Regions from separate parts of the Homo sapiens genome. Here region 1 is linked to region 2. Evidence: fine-mapped expression QTL. A gene starts in region 2. The other region holds a variant in brackets. All regions are shown on one strand. Distances are between the middles of the regions. Region 1 overlaps UBIAD1 (UbiA prenyltransferase domain containing 1). Region 2 holds the start of UBIAD1 (UbiA prenyltransferase domain containing 1).

The links.
Region 1: its variant is fine-mapped to the expression of UBIAD1 in testis (GTEx, PIP above 0.99).

The regions. Positions count from the first base shown.
Region 1 is chr1:11,288,140-11,300,351 of GRCh38, forward strand. UBIAD1 (UbiA prenyltransferase domain containing 1) reads left to right here. Exons shown (of 2, transcript NM_013319.3): 2 at 1-295. Among named protein-coding and RNA genes, the nearest start is that of UBIAD1, 21 kb to the left of the region's middle. RefSeq lists a silencer at 1,020-1,202. The variant C/T (reference allele first, on the strand shown) is at 5,366.
Region 2 is chr1:11,267,018-11,277,176 of GRCh38, forward strand. It overlaps UBIAD1 (UbiA prenyltransferase domain containing 1), which reads left to right and starts at 6,181. Exons shown (of 2, transcript NM_013319.3): 1 at 6,181-7,043. The coding sequence starts at 6,515. RefSeq lists silencers at 5,760-6,029, 6,090-6,139 and enhancers at 6,140-6,309, 6,400-6,449.

The sequences.
Region 1 (12,212 bases), 22 kb after region 2:
ACCTCTCCTTGGAGTAGGCCATTCTCATGCAGGGCTCACCCTGAGGCAGGAGGACCAAGGGCTCCCTGCGTCCACGGACCACGTATGCCTTGGTGGTCACTCCCATCGGGGCTATCAGTTCTGCACTGTGCCCTGGTGCGGATTTTAATGCATATTTTTATATATAAATGTTCCCAAAGGCCAAATTTGTTGCCAGGTTTTATACGCAGGTCACCATAATTTGTATTATGTTCCCTGAGTCAATGAAGGTTTTCTTTAGACTTCTTAATTAAAAAGAGAAGAAAGAAAATGTTCACCAATGGTCTGGCTTCTGGTTTTTGCTTTCCTCATACTTACTGTCTGATTGTGAACTCTGATTTGTAAATCTCAGGGAGACCAAGGCAGTGACATTGGACATTCAGGCTGTGCAGAGGGGCACCTGGTCTTTGGTGATGAGTTTGGGTAGGGTTTGACCAGATTCGACAGGCCTTTAGAAAAGGCAGCAGGGACTGGGCATGGTGGCTCACGCTTGTAATCACAGTAATTTGTGAGGCCAAGGTGAGAGGATTGCTTGAGCCCAGGAGTTTGAGACCAGCCTAAGTAACGTAGTAAGACCCCATCTCTACAAAAAAAATTTTAAAAAGTTAGCTGGGCGTGGTGGTGCATGCCTGTAGTCTCAGCTACTCAGGAGGCTGAGGTGGAAGGATCGCTTGAACCTAGCAGGTCGAGGCTGCAGTGAGGTATGATCACGCCACTGCACATCCGCCTGGGCGACAGAGCGAGACACTGTCTCAAAAAAAAAAACAAAACAAAAAACGTTGAGGGCTGCATGTAGCTACAGTGGATTTGCCAAGAGCCAGTCAGCAGTCAGGCCAGATTAACCTCGTTTCATTTTTCTTTTTCTTGATAGGGTCACTGTGCTGCTAGATGGAGAACATGAGGTAGATTGAGTACATGTGGGTTTCAGCTAGGCATTGGACAATATATCCTATGAACAAGGCAGAGAGACGTGGGATGGATAACAGTGGAGTTAGATAAATTCCTGAGAGACTGAGCAGGCGGTGGGAGAGAGCTAACTGATCAGCATGTCAGTGGCAGCTGGGAAGGAGCCCTTAGTAGCAGTTGGAGCCCTGTCCTCTGCCCTTTGCTCCGCTGGATTCAACACCTGTTATTAATGACGCGGATGAGGCAGCCAAAATGAAAGGTTTCATGAACCTTGGAGGAAGAGCTTACAAAATGACAATTAGGAGCCTCATAAATCAAAAGGCTGCTTTGATGGGTCAAAAGAAAAATGTAGTGTGAATAAATACAAAGCAATACACTAAGGTCCCAAAATCAACAGCATAAACATCAGAGAGGGGGAGAGCCATGATGTGACAGCCATGGAGATAGGGGGGTATGAGTTTTCTCAGTGACTGGAATCTGACATCACTTGTCTTTATTTATTTATTTATTATTTTTTTTGAGACTATGTCTCAGTGTCGCCTGGGCTAGAATGGAGTGGCGTGATCTCGGCTCACTGCAACCTCTGCCTCCCGGATTCAAAGCCATTCTCCTGCCTCAGCCTCCCCAGTAGCTGGGATTACAGGCACGTACCACCACACCTAGCTAATTTTTGTATATATATGTTTTATATATATCTCACTCTGTCGCACGGGCTAGAGTGCAGTGGCGCAATCTCGGCTCACTGCAACCTCTGCTTCCTGGGTTCAAGCGATTCTCCCACCTTAGCCTCCTGAGTAGCTGGCATTACAGGCACCCGCCACTATGCCCAGCTAATTTTTTGTATTTTTAGTAGAGAAGGGGTTTCACCATGTTGGCCAGGCTGGTCTCAAACTCCTGACCTTGAGATTCACCCGCCTTGGCCTCCCAAAGTGCTGGGATTACAGGTGTGAGCCACCGCACCTGGCATAATTTTTGTATTTTTAGTAGAGACGGGGTTTTACCATGTTGGCCAGGCTGGTCTCGAAATCCTGACCTCAGGCTATCTACCCATCTGGGCCTCCCAAAGTGCTGAGATTACAGGCGTGAGCCCCCGTGCCTGGCTGCCTTTATTTCTTGGAGTCAGATTTATTCTGCTCCCCAGGCAGGTGGCTGAAAATTCAATGCCAGCTACCTCTTGAGCACCCTCCCAAATGTCTGGGATCACCCAGAACTCCTGGCCTCTGTGGGGCCAGAGCCAGGGATTTTTGCTTACCATCTGTAAGGTCACCTCTCTGCTACTGGATGCTGGGGTTTGGCCCTGGAATCTGCCCTTGTCTTGGACACTGCTCCTCTAGAAGGGTTCATAAAGCCCCTTCCTGGTGACAAGTGCCAGTGGGGCACAGATCCTGCTACTCCAGTCACATTTCTGCCCAGTCTTGGAGCACTACCACTCTACCTATGATAATGCTCCATCCACCTCCCCTACTCAAAGCATTTCCCTTCTTCTCTACGCTTTGCAGGACCTTTGTGCTGAATCCCACTCAGGGCACCTTTGGAAGCTTGGTGCTGACTTCTGGAGTCGGGTGGGAAAAGATATGAATATATCCTATGTTGTCTTACTAACGCTTCCGTTACTCCTGTATTAAAACCACCAGGCCAGGTGTGGTGGCTTACGCCTGTAATCCCAGCACTTTGGGAGACCGAGATGGGTGGATCACTTGAGGTCAGGAATTCAAGACCAGCCTGGCCAACATGGTGAAACCCTGTCTTTACAAAGAAATACAAAAATTAGCACCTGTAATCCCAGCTACTTGGGAGGCTGAGGTGGCAGAATCTCTTGAACCCAGGAAGCGGAGGTTGCAGTGAGCCGAGATCACGCCACTGCACTCCAGCCTGGACAACAGAGCAAGACTGTGTCTCCTAAATAAACAAATAAATAAAATAACCAACACCTGAGCCTTTGACCTGGGCCAAAGCTTAGTCTGAGTCAGTAATGAGCTCCAACTTCCATGCAGATTAATATGATCTGAGCTAGAATTTAATATGATCTGAGCTAGAATTAACAGGAGAATTAGCGTCCAGAATAAGGAAGGCAGAAATTCTGCCCATCCCTGTCATTCTTCTCATGCTGGGCTGGGGCCAGTCCTGGGCACTTTCTTGCCTTCTTTCTTTTCTCTAGATATTAATAGAATCAGTGTGGTGAGAGATCAAGAACATGCTGTGGATATAATATACTTGGATTTCAGCAAGGCATTTGACAACATGCTATGAAATATGGAATGGGGCCAATCACGGTGGCTCATGCCTGTTATCCCAGCACTTTGGGAGGTCAAGGTGGGTGGATCACTTGAGTTCAGGAGTTCTAGGCCAGCCTGGCCAATATGGCAAAACCCTGTCTCTACAAAAATACAAAAATTAGCTGGGCGTGGTGGTGCACAACTGTAATCCCAGCGACTCGGGAGGCTGAGGCAGGAGAACTACCTGAACCCGGGAGGCAGAGATTGCAGTCAGCTAAGATCGTGCCACTGCACTCCAGCCTGGGTGACAGAGCGAGACTTCATCTCAAAAAAAAAAAAAAAAAAAGAAATATGGAATGGATGAAAAGACAATTACAGGAGCTTGCTTTCTATATGCATGTGTGTGCACGCGTGTGTGTTTGCATTGGTAACGGCTGCAGTAGAGATTTCCATTTCTCAGTGTAAGAACCACACTTTGAAGATGTTATCAACAAAGTGGATCTTGTCCTGAATGCGGTTGGCAGATGGGTGGGGGCACATAAAGCCATGTCAGCCTGGAAAGGAGAGTCACAAGAAGGCTGTCTTCGGGAAGACGGGTTGGACTTTTTTTTTTAAAACTTTTTTTTGCGTGTGGCTTCAAAGGGTAAAACTAGGACTAATGGGTAGAAGTTATATGTCCCCAAGTTGAAGCTCTTAGCTCAGGAAGGTTTCTTTCATTCTTTCTTTTTTCTTTTTTTTTTTGAGACGGAGTTTCGCTCTTGTCGCCCAGGCTGGAGTGCAATGGTGCAATCTCAGCTCGCTGCAACCTCTGCCTCCAGGGTTCAAGCGATTCTCCTGCCTCAGCCTCCTGAGTAGCTGGGATTAACAGGTGTGTGCCACCATGTCCAGCTAATTTTTGTGTTTTTAGTATAGATGGGGTTTCACCATGTTGGCCAGGCTGGTTTTGAACTCCTGACCTCAGGTGATCCACCTGCCTCGGCCTCCCAAAGTACTGGGATTACAGGCTTGAGCCACCACACCTGGCCAGATCAGGAAGGTTTCTTAGCCATTAGAGGAATCAGCGAGGGGGATGTTCAGAATGTCTCAGTTGGGGGTGAGTTCCTTGTGACTAGAGGCATTCAAGCGAAAAGATGATTCCTCGTCAGGAACATGGGTGTGAAGAGTCGCATCAGAGAGGCGTTGGATGAGAAGACCTCTAAGGGTCTTCCAATCCTGTGATTCAGTTGTTCTGTTATTACGGGATAGTCTTTCAGACCTGCCCCACGGGTTGGGAGGACAGAGTACAAGAGCCGTGTTGACATTTCTTCTTGATGTCAGACTGTTGACTGTCTGGCCATCTTAACAGGAACAGCTGTGATTGATATTCTTTTTTTAAAAGATTTTATGTATACACACACACACACACACACACACACACACACACACACACACACTCACAGAGTTGATTTCACCTCGAAAGCCCTTGAAGTGAGAGGGATGACAGCTCCTCTCTGAGCCCTGCGGACCACTCTGCTGCTAATGGACTGTCAGCCTCTTTCATTATGGGCTCCAGACTGTGCAGGCTGGTGTAAAAGGAATGCCTCTGGCAAGAACCTGGCACTTGGGTTCCAGCCAGTTGACATTTGTGACCTGCCCTTCTTCAAACTGGGACAGCCCTCCCACTGTGAGTGACTAAGCTAGGATGGCAAATGGTGGTATAAACCAAGTTGGGTTCCTGCCTGAGGAGGGGGCAAAGGCTGAGTCTGGGCTCATCAGGAGGCTTGCAAACGGCTTCCTGGGGTCAGGGAAAGGCTGTAATTGCAAGGCACAGACTCACTTCAGAAGATGCTGGAGCTCTGGGAGGAACAGTGAGGGCTTTGATCACATGCTCCCAACCAGGCTGAGTGGGGTATCACAAGTTGGTCTGGGCGCTTCTATGATGTTAAGGGATCCCAAGGGGCAGGGCTCTGTGTGGTGTGATTCAAGGGGTCCTCCAAATTCCGCACTCCCACGGTCCTGCCATATCCTGGCCCCTGTCTCCCCCAGCTTGGCTTAGAATTGCCTCCCATTAGGATCACAAATGGGTTTAACAGGGAAGACAAAAGCATAGCATGTGTTACTCACCTATTATTTTGCCAACATGTTTATTGTCAATTTCTCCCAGTAAGTGGTAGGACTAGAGTATAAGGACCATGTTTTCTTTTCCAGCCCATCTCAGCACTAGCACAGTGCATGGTGCAACAGAG[C/T]AGGCAGTCAGTAACTGGTTGTTGAATGACTGAGTTACATGGGAAGGGCTGGGCCCTCCAGGGCTGACTGACAGGTGTGAGAGTTTGGACCACTGCATCACATCAGCTGTCAGTAAGGACAGGTGAGTTCCACTTGGGGTTGGGAGTAGAGGAGAACCATGGCAGTAACTTATTATTATTATTATTTTGAGATGGAGTTTTGCTCTTGTCACCCAGGCTGGAGTGCAATGGCACGATCTCGGCTCGCTGCAACCTCTGCCTCCTGAGTTCAAGCGATTCTCCTGCCTCAGCCTCCCAAGCAGCTGGGATTACAGGCACCCACCACCATGCCCAGCTAATTTTTGTATTTGTAGTAGAAACGGGATTTCACCATGTTGGCCAGGCTGGTTTCGAACTGATCTCAGGTGATCCACCTGCCTCAGCCTCCCAAAGTGCTTGGATTACAGGCATGAGCCACTGTGCCTGGCCCCATGGCAGTACTCTTAAGAGCTTTTAAGATCCAGCTCATATTCCTGGCACGTAGAAGTCTCTAAATAAATAAACGTTGGATGACTGGCCGAGGGAATGGCAGTAATAAAGCTGTCATTTGTTGAATGCTCACTATGGACCAGGCACTGTTCTGATGCTTAAATACATTCTTTTAGTGCTCATAACAACCCCACGAATTGGATATTAAGGTCTCTTTTTCATAAGAGAGGAAACTGAGGTTCAGGGAGATTATTAAACTTGTCTAGGGTCATCTGGCTAGTAAGTGATAGAACCATGATTCAAATCTTGCTCTAATTCAGTGCAAGTTCTTTTATTATTATTATTTTTAATTAAAAAATTGAGACAGGGTCTCATTATGTTGGCCAGGCTGGTCTCAAACTCCTGGCCTCAAGCAGTCTTACCTTGGCCTCCCAAAGCGTTGGGACTACAGGTGTGAGCCACCACACCCAGCCTTCACTACAAACTGCCCCTCATCTCTCTTGCCCTGCAGTTCCTTGCTTGTAAGGGACTCAATCCATTGGTCTGCCCTTAGCCGCTCCCAAGTGTGTGAGTGTTGGGGCCAGCTATAGGCCTACAGAGGTGGCCCATGTGCCAGTGCCACAGAGGTGGTTCCCATCAGGGTGGGATGGCTGCTTCCTGGCTGGTGGCATTCCTACCAACACCCCCAGGGGCCAGCTCTGTGGGGATAGTAACTAAGCTTGTTGGTCTAACCTACTCTGGCTGGCTGGGCGAAAGTTACAAGTCAAAGTCTGCCCATCCCCAGATAATGGAGAGTGGCTCCTGCCTACCCACGATGATGGAGGCGAAGGTTCAGTCTCAGGTTAAATTTATGCTCCTGTCCCCTCATCTGTCTGTCCTCATTCGTCTCGTCTCTTCCAGTCCTCATCTAGCCACTGAAGCAGAGTGCCCACATCAGGAGCAGCCAGTGCTCAAGCTCCCAGAAACTGCCTAGTGACCTGCCTTCTAGACCTGCCTCCTGAGAATGGGGCTGGCCACCTTCGAGGAGAGGGAAGTGAGCCCCTTCCTGCCTCGGGGTGGGCAGCATCTGGAGCTGACAATTGTATGCATGTTCAGGACACAGGATACTCAACTCTTCGGGTTCAGTGTGCTGTGTGGAGGGAGAGGAAGTTGACACACGTGAACCATAGAATAAACAACGACCACAGAACATCAAGGTAGAGATGGGGCTGCTGGGTATCAGGAAGGCTTCCAGGAAGAGGTGACAATGAGCGGCGATCAAGGTTTCTAGGAAGAGGTGGCCATAAGAGGTGACTGTTCCATGGAAACCGAGGTGCTGATGGACAGCTCAATTCCCCCAGCTGGAGAAAGCCCCCCTGTTGCTGCCTGAGAGAGTAAGACTCGAAGTTTTCCTTAATCAGCCTCTTTTGGCTGTGCAGTTAGACAACTGGAGCATTGAGGCAGGTGTGCCAAGGGCACTCTGACCACTGCCAAGGTCAAAGCCTTCTGCAGAATGAAAACTCCGACACTTCCTTGCTGAGAAACAAACAAGAGAGAATGGCGGGGCATTTAATCATCCACAGCTGCCAATACCTAATCAAGATGAATGGCCTGGAGAGACAAGGCCAGGGAAAGCATCCCGTGAAGCAGGAGCGCTGAGCCCAAGTCTCCTGCGAGTCAGGGGAGCCCCTCAGCCCTGGGCCACATTGAGGCCAAGGGAATACCAGGTGGGAGGCCCTCAGATTCAGGGGAAGTGCTGAGGGGGTCAGAGGTCACCATGGTCACCAATGAGGGCCTTCCAGCTGACACTTGCCTTGGCCAAAGACCTTTACTGAGAGCCTGCTCTGTCCCAGGAGGCAAGATAAACGAGGCACACCCCTGCCCTTTGAGGACACACAGTGAACTAATAGCAAAAGCTACATGCATACATTATCCTGCCACCTCAAGTGTCAACATAGACACTTGTCCCTAGAGATCCTTAAAGCCCCTCTGAAGGACAGGCCACTCACAGCCATGTGTGAGACATAGAGGCATAAAGGCTGTGGGGAAATGAGGGCAGAAGAGATGAACTTCTCCATGCCCCATTGTTCCAGACTGCGATCAATTCACTATCTATGACTAGATCTCCTCTGATGCCATCTGCAGGTGGCTGCAAGACCAGTCAATTTATTGAACAAGTATTATGTTACAGGCACTTGCTAAGCTCTGGGAGGTATCATGGTAAATGAGACCTTATCCCTGTCCTCAGGAAACTTACACTCTCCAGAGGACAGACAGACAAACAGGCACACCTTATATCACTCCTGGAGCTTGACTGGTGAAGTGGAAAGAGTTTGGGCTTTCGAGTCTGGCAGCACTGGGTGGGTAGAAGTCCAGGCTCGATCACTCACCCCCGGGATACCCTCAGACAAGCTACATAACCTCTTTGAGCTTCCGGTGCCTCCTCTGCAAAGGAGGATGATAGGATTTGCCCTGTAGGGTAATTTTGGGTTTAAATGAGGTAGTGCTCACAGAGTACTTAGCATGTGCCTGGTGAGTAGTAGGCACTTCATAAAGTGAGTTCCCCCTGTCCCCCCCTTTGTTTTGAGACAGGATCTCACTCTGTAGCCCAGGGTGGAGTGCAGTAGCACAATCATGGCTTACTGCAGCCTCAACCTCCCTGGGCTCAGGTGATCTTCCCACCTCAGCCTCCAGAGTAGCTTGGACTACAGGCTTGCACCACCATGCCCAGCTAATTTTTGTATTTTTTATAGAGACAAGATTTCACCATGTTGCCCAGGCTGGTCTCCAGCTCTTAGGCTAAAGCAATCCGCCCGCCTCAGCCTCCCAAAGTGCTGGGATTACAAGCCTGAGCCACTGCTTCCAGCCCCCTTTCCTTTCTTATGGATGACTATTTTAGAATGTTGTTTTTTGTGTAATCTTAGACTTTCCTACCAAGGCAGAGGGCCCATGGCTGAGGGTCCATGTTCTTCCCAGTACTCAGCACAGTGCCTGGTACATTCATTCATTCATTCAACAAACATGTATTGAGCACCTGATAAGTACCAGGAACTGTATTAAAACTAAACATAGAAAATGAACAAGACCAGATCTCTATGCTCCCAGAGCTTATATGATAGTAAGGGAGATAGAAAAGAAACAACTATTCATTGTGAAACTCTCTGCTGTGGTTTGAATGTTGTATCCTCCCAGATTCATGTTGAATCCTAATGTTGAATCCTATGTTGAAGCCTAATCCCCAACATGATTGTATTAGGAGGTGGCAACTTTGGGAGGTGATTAGGTCACGAGAGTAGAGTCCTCATGGGTAGAGTATTAGTGCCCTGATCAAAGAGACCCCAGGGAGCTGCCTTGCTCCTTCCTCCATGGGAGGACACAGCTGGAAGGCACTATCTATGAACCAGAAAGTGGCCTTCACCAAACCAAATCTGCCTTGGTTTTGGACTTCTCAGCCCCCAGACCTGTGAGACATTTCTGTTGTGTATAAGCCATCTAGTTTAATGGTATTTTGCTATAGTAGCCTGAATGGCACTCTGTGTATGGGGGTGGGGGTGTCCATTTGGTGATTCCGAGGGGCTCTGCCCTGGCACCAGGATAAGTTCCATGCAGAAACCAAAGGATGACCCATCTGCAGCCCTTCTGTCAGGAGAGCCAAGCCTGGCTGTGCTGAGATCAGAATCCTGGTGGGGTGACTATGAAAAAGTTGGGGTCTTGGCCTTGGGGTCAAAGATTGTCAAGGTGACTTCTCATTCGAATGCTTCACAGCCCTGGAGGCTTGACAGTTGAGAATGCGCTGAAGAAGTCCTGGATGGAGAGACAGGTGGTCTTACATGTGGCTGTGAGTGGCCTGTCCTTCAGAGAGGCTTTAGGAATCTCTAGGTACAAGGGAAAGATAACATCCCCTTGGGCTGCAGTCCAGGTTCATTCAACAAGGGAAGAAAACTGGAAAACATCTGATGTCTGTTTTACCAGAGTTGTTACTATTACTTTTACTATTATTGTTTTTTGTTTTTTTGTTTTTTTTTTGAGACGAAGTTTTGCTCTTGTTGCCCAGGCTGAAGTGCAGTGGCACGATCTCGGCTCACTGCCACCTCCATCTTCTGGGTTCAAGCGATTATCCTGCCTCAGCCTCCCGAATAGCTGGGATTACAGCATGCACCACCATGCCCAGCTAATTTTGTATTTTTAGTAGAGAAGGGTTTCACCATGTTGGTCAGGCTGGTCTCAAACTCCTGACCTCAAGTGATCCACCCACTCTGGCCTCCCAAAGTGTTGGGATTACAGGCATGAGCCATTGCTCCCCACCAGAGTTGTTATTATATTTTAAAAAATTGGGCCAGACACAGTGGCTTATGCCTGTAATCCCAGCACTTTGGGAGACCGAGGCAGGTGAATCACCTGAGGTCAAGTGTTTGAGACCAGCCTGGCCAATGTGGCAAAAACCCATCTCTACTAAAAATACAAAAATTAGCCGGGCATGGTGGCACATATTGTAATCCCAGCTACTCCGGAGGCTGAGGCAGGAGAATCACTTAAACCTGGGAGGTGGAGGTTGCAGTGAGCTGAGATTGTGCCATTGCACTCCAGCCTGGGTGACAGAATGAGACCCTGTCTCCAAAAATAAATAAATAAATAAATAAATAAATAAATAAATAAAAGTTTCCCATGTGCATGTGTGCACATATGTGTGTACACTTATGGACATTTGGGGACACCTCCTGCACCCCGCAGTGGTGCAGTTATTATCCTGGGTATTCAGTAGGTGCTGAACGTGAAGGGAACCCAATGCAGTGAGCGACACCTGGTAAAGCCATCTCAATGTCTAGACAAGCAGTCTCCATGCAGCTCCAAGGAGGATAAGGGGAAACCACAGAGGGCTGTGAGCAGAGGGTTGCTCAGAGCCCCTCCTGACGGAGGCGAGGAGGAGGTGGAGCCATTCGTTATCCTGCCAGCTTGGCACAGAGGCTGGGTGCAGGGGCTGGGTGGCTGTGCTGAGAAGAGCCATTCCATTTCCAAGAAGGAACAGGGAGGGGATGGTGAGGAGCGAAGATAACCAAGTCAGTCAAGCAGGGCAGAGCACGGTGTAATCCATGCCCTAGGCCATCACAGTGGCTGCAGCCAATCTCACTGCATGAGAGGTGGGAGAAGATGGGCTTCCCCAGGAGAGGCCCTGCCCTGGAAACCCCACTGCCTGCCCTGGGTCATCCTTGATACTCATTCCCTTGTTTCTCTCAGTGGCGGGCATGACAGCAACATGTCAAGGCCGCCTAACCACAGTCACAGTGAGAGCCACCAGACGCTGGATCCGGGCAGCAACTTGGGGTTCACTGAAGCTTTCTCCGTGCTTTTCTCACGCTGGCCTCCCTATGGCCCTGAGAGGTGCATGCTCGGCTTGTTTCATGGGCTGAGTGGTTCAGTGACTTGCTCGGGATCACAACCACCGCACAGGAGCACCACACATGGCCTGGACTGGTTCTCTTCCAACTCTAAAAGCAGCACTCATTTGGTTAACAGTCTTTTTCATTTTCAACACTTCTTTCTTTTGAAGGGGGGAGCAAAGCGTGATCGGTTGCCTTTTATAATTCTCGTTTTCAATTTCAATCTCTTTTAAAATGTTGAAAGACTCACAGCTGCCTCTTTTGTTATTGTCTTCATCTCCCACCCTCTTTCCGGCCTCTCCTCCTTGCCTTTCCTTCCCTTAACCCTTCCCATGGCTCCTCTGAGCTGCCCAGGCATGTGGCCGGCTTGTCATGCTGGTGGCCTTGGATGTTGGAGAAGAGGGGGAAGAGGTAGGATTGAGGGGCTCCATCAGAGACAGGGTCTCAGGGGTCTTCACAGTTTGATGGATTTTTTTTTTTTTTTTTGAGACAGAGTCTCTCTGTTGCCCAAGCTGGAGTGCAGTGGCACGATCTCAGCTCACTGCAACCTCTGCCTCCCAGGTTTAAGTGATTCTCCTGCCTCAGCCTCCCGAGTAGCTGGGACTACAGGTGCGTGCCACCATGCCCAGCTAATTTTTATATTTTTAGTAGAGACAGGGTTTCACCATGTTGGCCAGGCTGGTCTCAAACTCCTGGCCTCAGGTGATCCACCCATCTTGGCCTTCCAAAGTACTGGGATTATACGCATGAGCCACCATGCCCGGCCTAATTTTTGTAGAGACAGAGTCTTGCCATGTTGCCCAGCCAGGAGTCAAATAGCAGGAAGGCTCTGCTCCAAACAATGCTTGGTTTTCCATTGAAGACATCTAATAACTTTTACAATTTTTTTTTTTTTGAGACACAGTCTCCCTCTGTCACCCAGGCTGGAGTGCAGTGGTGTGATCTTGGCTCACTGCAACCTCTGCCTCCTGGGTTCAAGTGATTCTTGTGCCACAGCCTCCTGAGTAGCTGGGATTACAGGC
Region 2 (10,159 bases):
GAGATCTTATGGGAAGCTGCTGATCACCAGTTTCAGGTGTTTCTATCTTTTGGGAGACTGCCTTTCTCTGGCACCAGCTGCAATCAATTATTATTTTAGCGAGATAGCTTAACAACTGCCTGACCATCACCCAATGGTTGCTTGACATTCCTGGGGTTAGGGGGTGGGGGCCTCTCCTGCTCTGCTCATGCCTGACTAGCTATCTACTGTAACAGGAGGAGACCTTCAAATCCATCTCCCCAAGGAATTCTGAGCTGGGTTTGTTTGTTTGTTTGTTTGTTTTGTTTTTTCTTGAGACAGAGTCTCGCTCTGTTGCCCAGGCTGGAGTGCAGTGGCAGGATCTCAGCTCACTGCCACCTCTGCCTCCCAGGTTCAAGCAATTCTTGTGCCTCAGCCTTTTGAGTAGCTGGGATTATAGGTGTGTGCCACCATACCCGGCTAATTTTTGTATTTCTAGTAGAGACACGGTTTCACCGTGTTGGTCAGGCTGGTCTCAAACTCCTGACCTCTTGATCTGCCCACCTCGGCCTCCCAAAGTGCTGGGATTACAGGAGTGAGCCACCGTGCCCGGCCTGAGCTGGGGTTTTTAAGGGGATTGTAGAGGGGGAGAGGCTGGAAATTTGGTATCGTTTATGGGTTGGGGTAAAGGGGGTGAAATCATCAGGATGTAGAAACTGCATTCTTTGGTGAGTTAGCTCCCTGTGGGGTCTTTCACAATGGCTGTCATCAGTAGTTTCACTGATATGCAGGACCTGAAAGAATACCTCAGGTGGAAAACAATGTTTTGCAAGCTTAAGTTGTCTGATGACAGGGTCCGCATGATTCTGGGACAGTAGGCAGCAAACAACTATGAGGAAATGGCTCAGAGTTCAACATGACCTCATGATGAATGCTGAATGTGCTGCAAGCTTTGTTTATTTTCATTTCTCTCCCTCCCTTCCTCCCTGATTTATTTTATTTTATTTTGAGATGGAGTCTCACTCGGAGTGCAGTGGTGTGATCTCAGTTCACCGCAACCTCCACCTCCCGGGTTCAAACGATTCTCCTGCCTCAGCCTCCCGAGTGGCTGGGATTACAGGTGTGCGCCACCATGCCAGCTAATTTTTGTACTTTTTTTTTTTTTTTGAGACCAAGTCTCGCTCTGTAGCCCAGGCTAGAGTGCAGTGGCGTGATCTCAGCTCACTGCAACCTCTGCCTCCCAGGTTCAAGCAATTCTCCTGCCTCAGCCTCCAGAGTAGCTGGGATTACAGGTGTGCACCTCGGCAGAGTAGCTGGGATTATAGGCGCACCCCACTGTACCCGGCTAATTTTTTGTATTTTTAGTAAAGACAAAGTTTCACCATGTTGGCCAGGCTGGTCTTGAACTCCTGACCTCAGGTAATCTGCCTGCCTCAGCCTCGCAAAGTGCTAGGATTACAGGTGTGAGCCACTGTGTCCAGCCTAATTTTTGTATTTTTAGTAGAGACGGGGTTTCACAATGTTGGCCAGGCTGGTCTCGAACTCCTGACCTCAAGTGATCAGCCTGCCTTGGCCTCCCAAAGTGCTGGGATTACAGGTGTGAGCCACCGCACCTGGCCCCTGATTAATTTTATAAAGTTTGTTGGGACGGTTTCATTTCCATCTTGGTACACACAGAGTTTCTTGTCCTTTTGTTGTTGCTACAGCTGCATAGTGTTCTATCACATGGCTGTGCCATAGTTCATTTTCCAGTCCTCTGTGAATGGACATTTGTGTTATGTCCAAATTTGTGCTATTACAAATGCTGCAGTGAATGCCTTTGTACGTATATCATTTTCTTCCCTGACAGCTATATCAAGATAAATTCCCAGAAATGGGATTACAGGGTTAGACAGTTTTGTTGAATCTTGTCAAGTTGATCTCTATAAGGGAGGTACCAATTTTTATTCCCATCAGCCATATAGGAGATTTTTGCCACCCTGAGATATGATACAGCCCTGTTTTCTAATTAATAATCAAAGATGATTTTATAGCAACAGTAATAAGTGCGTTTGTCGGTTTCTTTTCTGTTTACAAAGAACTTTCTTTTTTATTGTATTTTTGCAAGTCTTTTTATTTTATTATTATACTTCAAGTTCTAGGGTACATGTGCACAACGTGCAGATTTGTTACATAGGTATACATGTGCCGTGTTGGTTTGCTGCACCCATCAACTTGTCATTTACATTAGGTATTTCTCCTAACGCTATCCCTCCCCCAGCCCCCCAACCCCCAACAGGCCCCGGTGTGTGATGTTCCCCTCCCCGTGTCCATGTGTTCTCATTGTTCAACTCCCACTACAAAGAACTTTCTTATGCATTACACTAAAATAATAGCTAATATTTATTGAGCACTTACAGTGTATCAGGGATTTTGGTGGACATTATAGAGTACTTGTTAAAAGCAGCTTGGAGTCAAGTCAAACTAACTGAATCTGAAATTTGGCTGCAACACTTTGTACCTATTTCCTTATGTGTAAAACTGGAAGGATTATAGTCTCTTCGTTGGTAGGCAGTATTGTGGGGGTTAAACGCTAATACCACACGTAAAGTACCTAAAAGAGGTACTTGGCCCAGCATGGTGGCTCACACCTGTAATCCCAGCACTTTGGGAGGCCAAGGCAGGTGGATCACCTGAGGTCAGGAGTTCGAGATCAGCTTGGTAAAACCCTATCTCTACTAAAAATATAAAAATTAGCTGAGCATGGTGGCAGACGCCTGTAATCCCAGTTACTCAGGAGGCTGAGGAGGAGAATCACTTGAACCTGGGAGGTGGAGGTTACAGTGAGCCGAGATCGCACCACTGCACTCCAGCCTGGGCGACAGAGCAAGACTCCGTCTCAAAAGCAAACAAAGTATATGGCTCATGTGAAAAGTCAATAAATGCTGTTTACTATTATTCCTGAGCATTTCTATGAGGCAGGTTGTATTGTTCCCACCTTATATATAAGTAAGCCAAAGAACAGAGATATTGGGACATGGAATTGGTAAGTGATAGAGCCAGGATTTTAATCTATCTGCTGATATATTGTCTGATTTGACATTGTATGACTCATGGGTTTGGCCAGCATAGAAAGCTCTGTGTTGAGTGGTGAAGTTGTAATGTTCAACAACCAGATTGGGGGTAAGTGGAAGCAGACATGTACAGAGCTAGCTTCACAGCTGTGTCATGCTCTGTTTTGCAATTGTTAATGATTTTGAACAAGAGGCCCCACTTATTTTTTTTATTTTTTAAATTAATTAATTATTTTTTTTGAGATGGAGTTTTGCTCTTATTGTCCAGGCTGGAGTGCAATGGCACGATCTCGGCTCACCGCAACCTCCACCTCCCGGGTTCAAGTGATTCTCCTGCCTCAGCCTCCTGAGTAGCTGGGATTACAGGCATGCGCCACCACTCCCGGATGATTTTGTATTTTTAGTAGAGACGGGGTTTCTCCATGTTGGTCAGGCTGGTCTTGAACTCCCAACCTCAGGTCATCTGACCACCTTGGCCTCCCAAAGTGCTGGAATTACAGGCGTGAGCCACCGTGCCTGGCCTGGCCCCACTTATTTATTGATTTTATTTTATTTTTTTGAGATAGGATCTCACTCTATTACCCAGGCTGGAGTGCAGGGGCACAATCATGACTCACTGCAGCCTCAACTTCCCAGGCTCAGGTGATTCTTCCGCCTCAGCCTCCCAAGTAGCTGGGACCACGGGTGCACACTGCCACGCCTGGCTAATTCTTTTACTTTTTCTTTTTCTTTTTTTTTTTTTTTGAGATGGAGTCTTGCTCTGTCGCCCAGGCTGGAGTGCAGTGGCACGATCTCGGCTCACTGCAAGCTCCGCCTCCGGGGTTCATGCCATTCTCTTGCCTCAGCCTCCCAAGTAGCTGGGACTACAGGTGCCTGCCACCACGCCTGGCTAATTTTTTTGTATTTTTAGTAGACATGGTGTTTCACCATGTTAGCCAGAATGGTCTTATCTCCTGACCCCATGATCTGCCCGCCTCGGCCTTCCAAAGTGCTGGGATTACAGGCGTGGGCCACTGCACCTGGCCCACACCTGGCTAATTCTTCGATTTTTACCGTGTGGTCCAGGCTGGTCTTCTCCTGGGCTCAAGCGATCCACCTGCCTTGTCCTCCCAAAGTGTTGGGATTACAGGTGTGAGCCACCACATCTGGTCTTTTTAATTTTTTAGAGCGGAGATCTCACTTTGTTGCCCAGGCTGGTCTCTAACCTGAGCTCAAGAGATCCTCCCGCCGGGTGCGGTGGCTCACACCTGTAATCCCAGTACTTTGGGAGGCTGAGGCAGGCGGATCACGAGGTCAGGAGATAGAGACCATCCTGGCTGACACGGTAAAACCTTGTCTCTACTAAAAATACAAAATAATTAGCCGGGCGTGGTGGCGGGCGCCTGTAGTCACAGCTACTCGGGAGGCTGAGGCAGGAGAATGGTGTGAACCCTGGAGGCGGAGCTTGCAGTGAGCCGAGATTGTGTCACTGCACCCCAGCCTGGGCAACAGAGCAAGACTCCGTCTCAAAAAAACCTCCTGAGTAGCTGGGACTACAGGCACACATTATCACCCCCAGCTCCACCTCTTTAGTTTGCACTGGGTACCACAAATTATGTAGTCAGTCCTGTGTGCATCTATGTTGCATGTGTATTATAATTTCACTGATGTAAATGATGTGTAGCATACAGTTTACAAATACTAAAATATACAGTACAGGACTCTATTGTAAACTCCATATAGCCAGTTCTCACAGTATGCTTTCTTTGATGTTGTGTAGCTTCCCTATGGTCCCAATTGATCAATGAGCATAGTTCAGACATGAATGTTGGTTGATATTTTATGTTAGGAGTAAGAGGAAAGTGAAACAATCAAAAGAGATATGTCAGAACTTCACTAGTTTGTCAAGGCTACAAGCGACTTATTTGTTCAACTGGATAATAATTTGCCAATGCTGAACGAATATTTCCTCAAAGTTTTGGTGCATTCACTTACACACTTTTTTTCTCTCTTTTTTTTCTTTTTTGAGACGGAGTCTCGCTCTACTGCCCAGGCTGGAGTGCAGTGGCGTGATCTTGGCTCACTGCAGCCTCTGCCTCCAGGGTTCAAGCAATTCTCCTGCCTCAGCCTCCCGAGTAGCTGTGATTACAGGAATGCACCACCACCCCCGGCTAATTTTTTTTTTTTTTTTGAGATGGAGTCTCACTCTGTTGCCCAGGCTGGAGCCCATTGGCATGATCTTGGCTCACTGCAACCTCCATCTCCCGGGTTCAAGCAATTCTCCTGCCCCAGCCTCCCGAGTAGCTGGGATTACAGGTGCCTGCCACCACGCACGGCTAATTTTTGTATTTTTAGTAGAGACAGGGTTTCGCTATGTTGGCCAGGCTGATGTCGAACTCCTGACATCAAGTGATCCGCCTGCCTCGGCCTTCCAAAGTGCTGGGATTACAGGCGTGAGCCACCGCACCCTCCAACACTTTTAAGTTTAACCAGTAATATGAACATTTTCTCCGCCACTTTCTTAAGTCTAGACGACTTAGCAGTTATTAAGCATTTGCTGATTTGCGTGGTGTAAATTCTCCCACCATGGGCAGATTTCAAGCTGCTGAAGGATGTCACTGAATGAAAAGCTGATAAGAGGTGAGCAGTAGCACATCATAGAGTATTTCCACGGTGCAGATATGATAGACGTCAGAATGTATGCACACAGCAGGCGCTCAATAAATGCTTGTAGCATGAATAAATTAATGAATCCTACTTCGTGAATGAAAGTGCGCCCGGTAAGTCCTAAAGCAACACGCCTTCGAGTTCTTATGATGCTAAGAGAGGCTGATTGCAGTTAGTCTGGAAGTAGCTGCGGGGCGCAGTGCAGGCAGGAAAAGGGCTGGATGCCGGGTCACCGCCCGGCCCCAGCTCCTGGCCCGTCCCCGCTCCCGGTCCATTCCCGCCCCGGCCCCGCCCCCTCCCGCCCCACCACCGGTCTGGCCCCGCCCCTCAGCCCCGCCCCACCCCTCACCGCCCTTCTCCCCGCCTCTGACCCCGCCCCTCCTCTGACTCGGCCCTGCCCGCCCCGCCTCTGACCAGGCCCCCGCCCCCCACCCCTCACCGCCCTTCTCCCCGCCTCTGGCTCGGCCCCGCCCCCTCCCGCCCTCCAGCCCACCCTCCGGTCCAGCCCGCGCCGCCGGCACCTGTTTCCGGGCGGGCCTCCAGAGGCCGGCGCACAAGATGGCGGCTCTGGCGGCCTAAAGAAGGCGGCCGCGGCTCAGCCGTGGGCTCTAACGCGGGGCTGGGGGCCGGAGACAGACTTCGCCCAGGTGACGGGTAGTAGGGGCGGCGCCGCTTGGCCTCGTGGGGTGTAAGACCCACTTGCTGTTGCCCCCGGACCTTGCCGCCACACCAGCCCTGTCCTGGGGCGGAACCGAAGGAAGGTCGGGCCCTGCTGCCCCGCCCCGTCCTTCCTCCTTCCCGGGCGGTCACTGTGCGTGGCTCACTTTTAGAGTTTACTTCAACCACGTGGAGCTTCCATGGCGGCCTCTCAGGTCCTGGGGGAGAAGATTAACATCCTGTCGGGAGAGACTGTCAAAGCTGGGGACAGGGACCCGCTGGGGAACGACTGTCCCGAGCAAGATAGGCTCCCCCAGCGCTCCTGGAGGCAGAAGTGTGCCTCCTACGTGTTGGCCCTGAGGCCCTGGAGCTTCAGTGCCTCACTCACACCGGTGGCCCTGGGCAGTGCCCTTGCCTACAGATCCCACGGTGTCCTGGATCCCAGGCTCTTGGTGGGTTGTGCCGTGGCTGTCCTGGCTGTGCACGGGGCCGGTAATTTGGTCAACACTTACTATGACTTTTCCAAGGGCATTGACCACAAAAAGAGTGATGACAGGACACTTGTGGACCGAATCTTGGAGCCGCAGGATGTCGTCCGGTTCGGAGTCTTCCTCTACACGTTGGGCTGCGTCTGTGCCGCTTGCCTCTACTACCTGTCCCCTCTGAAACTGGAGCACTTGGCTCTTATCTACTTTGGAGGCCTGTCTGGCTCCTTTCTCTACACAGGAGGTAAGATTTGGCCTGTCCTGTGTGCTGCAGGTCTTAGTCGCGTCCACTGGAAACCGCTGCTTTGTAAAGGAGTTATAGGGATGTCAAAGGTGGCTTTCTAATTTAAGCCGCTTTAATTGAAGTCTATAATTGTGGGTGATGTGAATTTTTTGAAACAGTGATTTGAGAAGATCCTGGTTTGACTTACGGACGTAGGGCATGACTGAAAATTTTATATGGACATTTATTTTTATTTATTTTTTATGTATTCATTTTTGAGACGGAGTCTCGCTCTGTCGCCCAGGCTGGAGTGCAGTGGTGCGATCTCGGCCCACTGCAGCCTCTGCCTCCCGTGTTCAAGCGATTCTCCTGCCTCAGCCTCCCGAGTAGCTGGGACTACAGGTGCACGCCACCACGCCTGGCTGATTTTTGTATTTTTATTAGAGACGGGGTGTCACCATGTTGGCCAGGATGGTCTCGATTTCCTGACCTCGTGATCCACCCGCCTCAGCCTCCCAAAGTTCTAAGATTACAGGCGTGAGCCACCGCGCCCTGTCAGGACATTTTTTAATTTTTTTTATTTTTTTTGAGACAGAGTCTCGCTCTGTTGCCCAGGCAAGGGTGCAGTGGCACCATCTCGGCTTACTGCAACCTCTGTCTCCCGGCTTCAAGCGATTCTTCTGCCTCAGCTCCCCGAGTAGCTGGGACTACAGGCATGTGCCACCACGCCTGGCTAATTTTTGTATTTTTAGTAGAGACAAGGTTTCACCATGTTGGCCAGGCTGGTCTTGAACTCCTGACCTCATGACCTGCCTGTCTTGCCCTCCCAAAGTGCTGGGATTACAGGCGTGAGCCACCATGCCCGGCCTATATGGACATTTTTTCTGTCTCATTTTTTTTTTTAATCACTCATACTTTATAATGCCACAGTTTCAAATATTAGAATTAAATCTGAAGAGTTCAAAATGATATAGATAATTACTTCTAGCTAGTTTGCTAGGTGACTTCTTGCAAGAGGCTGATTAAGGTAGTGATGGGCAGGTGGGTAAGCCCTATTTATTGAGCACCTATTATGTGCCAGGCACTGTTCTGTGTGAACACAGCAGTCACAGATCCCTGCCCTTGTGAAACTTACGTATTATCATGAAAAGAGACAGAAAGTAAAAATAGAAAATTATAGTTAGGGTGACCAATATCCTGGTTTGCTCAGGACTAAGGTGACAGGACTAAGTCGGATGTGCGACTTCTGGAGCTAAAACCAGAAAAGTTCCTGGTAAGTCAGGTTGAATTGATCACCCTGATTATAGTATATGAAAGATGATAAGTGCTATGGGAAAAAAAAGTAGAGCAAAGAATGGGACACAGATTACTATTTTAAGTAGTTTGATCAGGGTAGGCTTCATCAAAAAGGTAACATTTGGCTGAGTGCAGTGGCTCATGTCTGTAATCCCAGCCCTTTGGGAGGCTGAAGCGAGAGGATCGCTTGAGGCCAGGAGTTAAACACCAGCCTGGGCAACATAGACCCCTGTCTGTATAAAATATAAAATAAAAAATATTAGCTGGGCATGGTGGTGCTTGCCTGTGGTCCCAGCTACTTTGGAGGCTGAGGCGGGAGAATTGCTTGAGCCCAGGGGTCAAGGCTGCAGTGAGTCCTGATCACACCACTGCACTCCAGCCTGGGCGACAGAGTGAGACCATGCCTCAGAAAGGTAGTATTTGAGTTGAGTTACATTGAAGGAGGTAAGAGGTGAGGGAGTTGGCCAAGCAGATATCTGAGAGAGGAGCATTTCAGGAAAAGCAACAGCAAGTGCCATAGGCCTTCAGGCAGGAATGTGTCCAAAGAGCTTACAGAGCAGCAAGAAGTCCAGTGTGTGAATGAAGGAGAGAGTAAAGAGAGGTAAAGTAAGAGAAGTACGTTTGGGGAGGGTAAGGAGGCACACACACGGATTATATAGACCTTGTAGGCCACTGGTCTTGGCTCTGGAATGGAGGAGCCACTGCAGGACTTTGAGCAAGGGAGTGATGTAATATAATGTTTTAAAAGAATTGCTCTGGGTAAGGTATTGAGAATGGATCAAGGGGAGTGGGGCAAGGGTAGAGGCAGGAAGACCAAGTAGGAAGCTCTTGAATAATCCAGGCAAGCGATGTTTGGTGGCTTGTATCTAGCGGGTGGTAGTGGAAGAGGTAAGTAGCCAGATTCTAAATATGCTTTGAAGGTAGACAGGGTTTGCTGATGGATTGGATGTGAGGTAAAGAGAAACAGAGGAATTAAGCATAACTCAAAGGTTTTTTTTTTTCTTGGACACATTCCACATTTTATTTACATTTTCAGACTAACTTTGGGCTGGGTGCTGTGCCTCATGCCTGTAATCTCAGCACTTCGGGAGGCCAAGGCAAGTGGATCACTTGAGATCAGGAGTTCCAGACCAGCCTGGCCAACATGGTGAAACCTTGTCTGTACTAAAAATACAAAAATTAGCCAGGCGTGGTGGCATGTGCCTGTAGTCCTAGCTACTCGGGAGGCTGAGGCAGGAGGATTGCTTGAGCCCAGTAGGCAGAGGTTGCAGTGAGCTGAGATCATGCCACTGCATTCCAGCCTGGGCAACAGAGAGAGGCTCCATCTCAAAAAAAAAAAAAAAAGACCAACTTTAGTTTCAAAATTATATCTCCATATATGTATCCCTTTTTTGTTGATGTCACTTAACCTTAAGTGCATAGTTTGTTAAAAAAAAAAAACTGTAAGCAAATATTTACCATGTCTGTTACGTGTAACACACATGAACAGCTTTTAACAGAAATTCATCAACTCCCCCCCAACATTTTTTATTATAAGATAGGTATCAAAACAATCCTGAACATATTTTTCATACTACTAGTAGTCAGCACCCACACCACTTCAAAAATTAACACATTTGTGCTGGATGTGGTAGTTTTTACCCATAATCCCAACACTTTGGGAGGCTGAGGCAGGCAGATCACCTGAGTTCAGGAGTTCGAGACCAGCCTGGCCAGCATGGTGAAACCCCATCTCTACTAAAAATACAAAAATAAGCTGGGCATGGTGGTGCATGCCTGTAGTCCCAGCTACTTGGGAGGCTGAGGTAGGAGAATCGCTTGAACCTGGGAGGTTGTAGTGA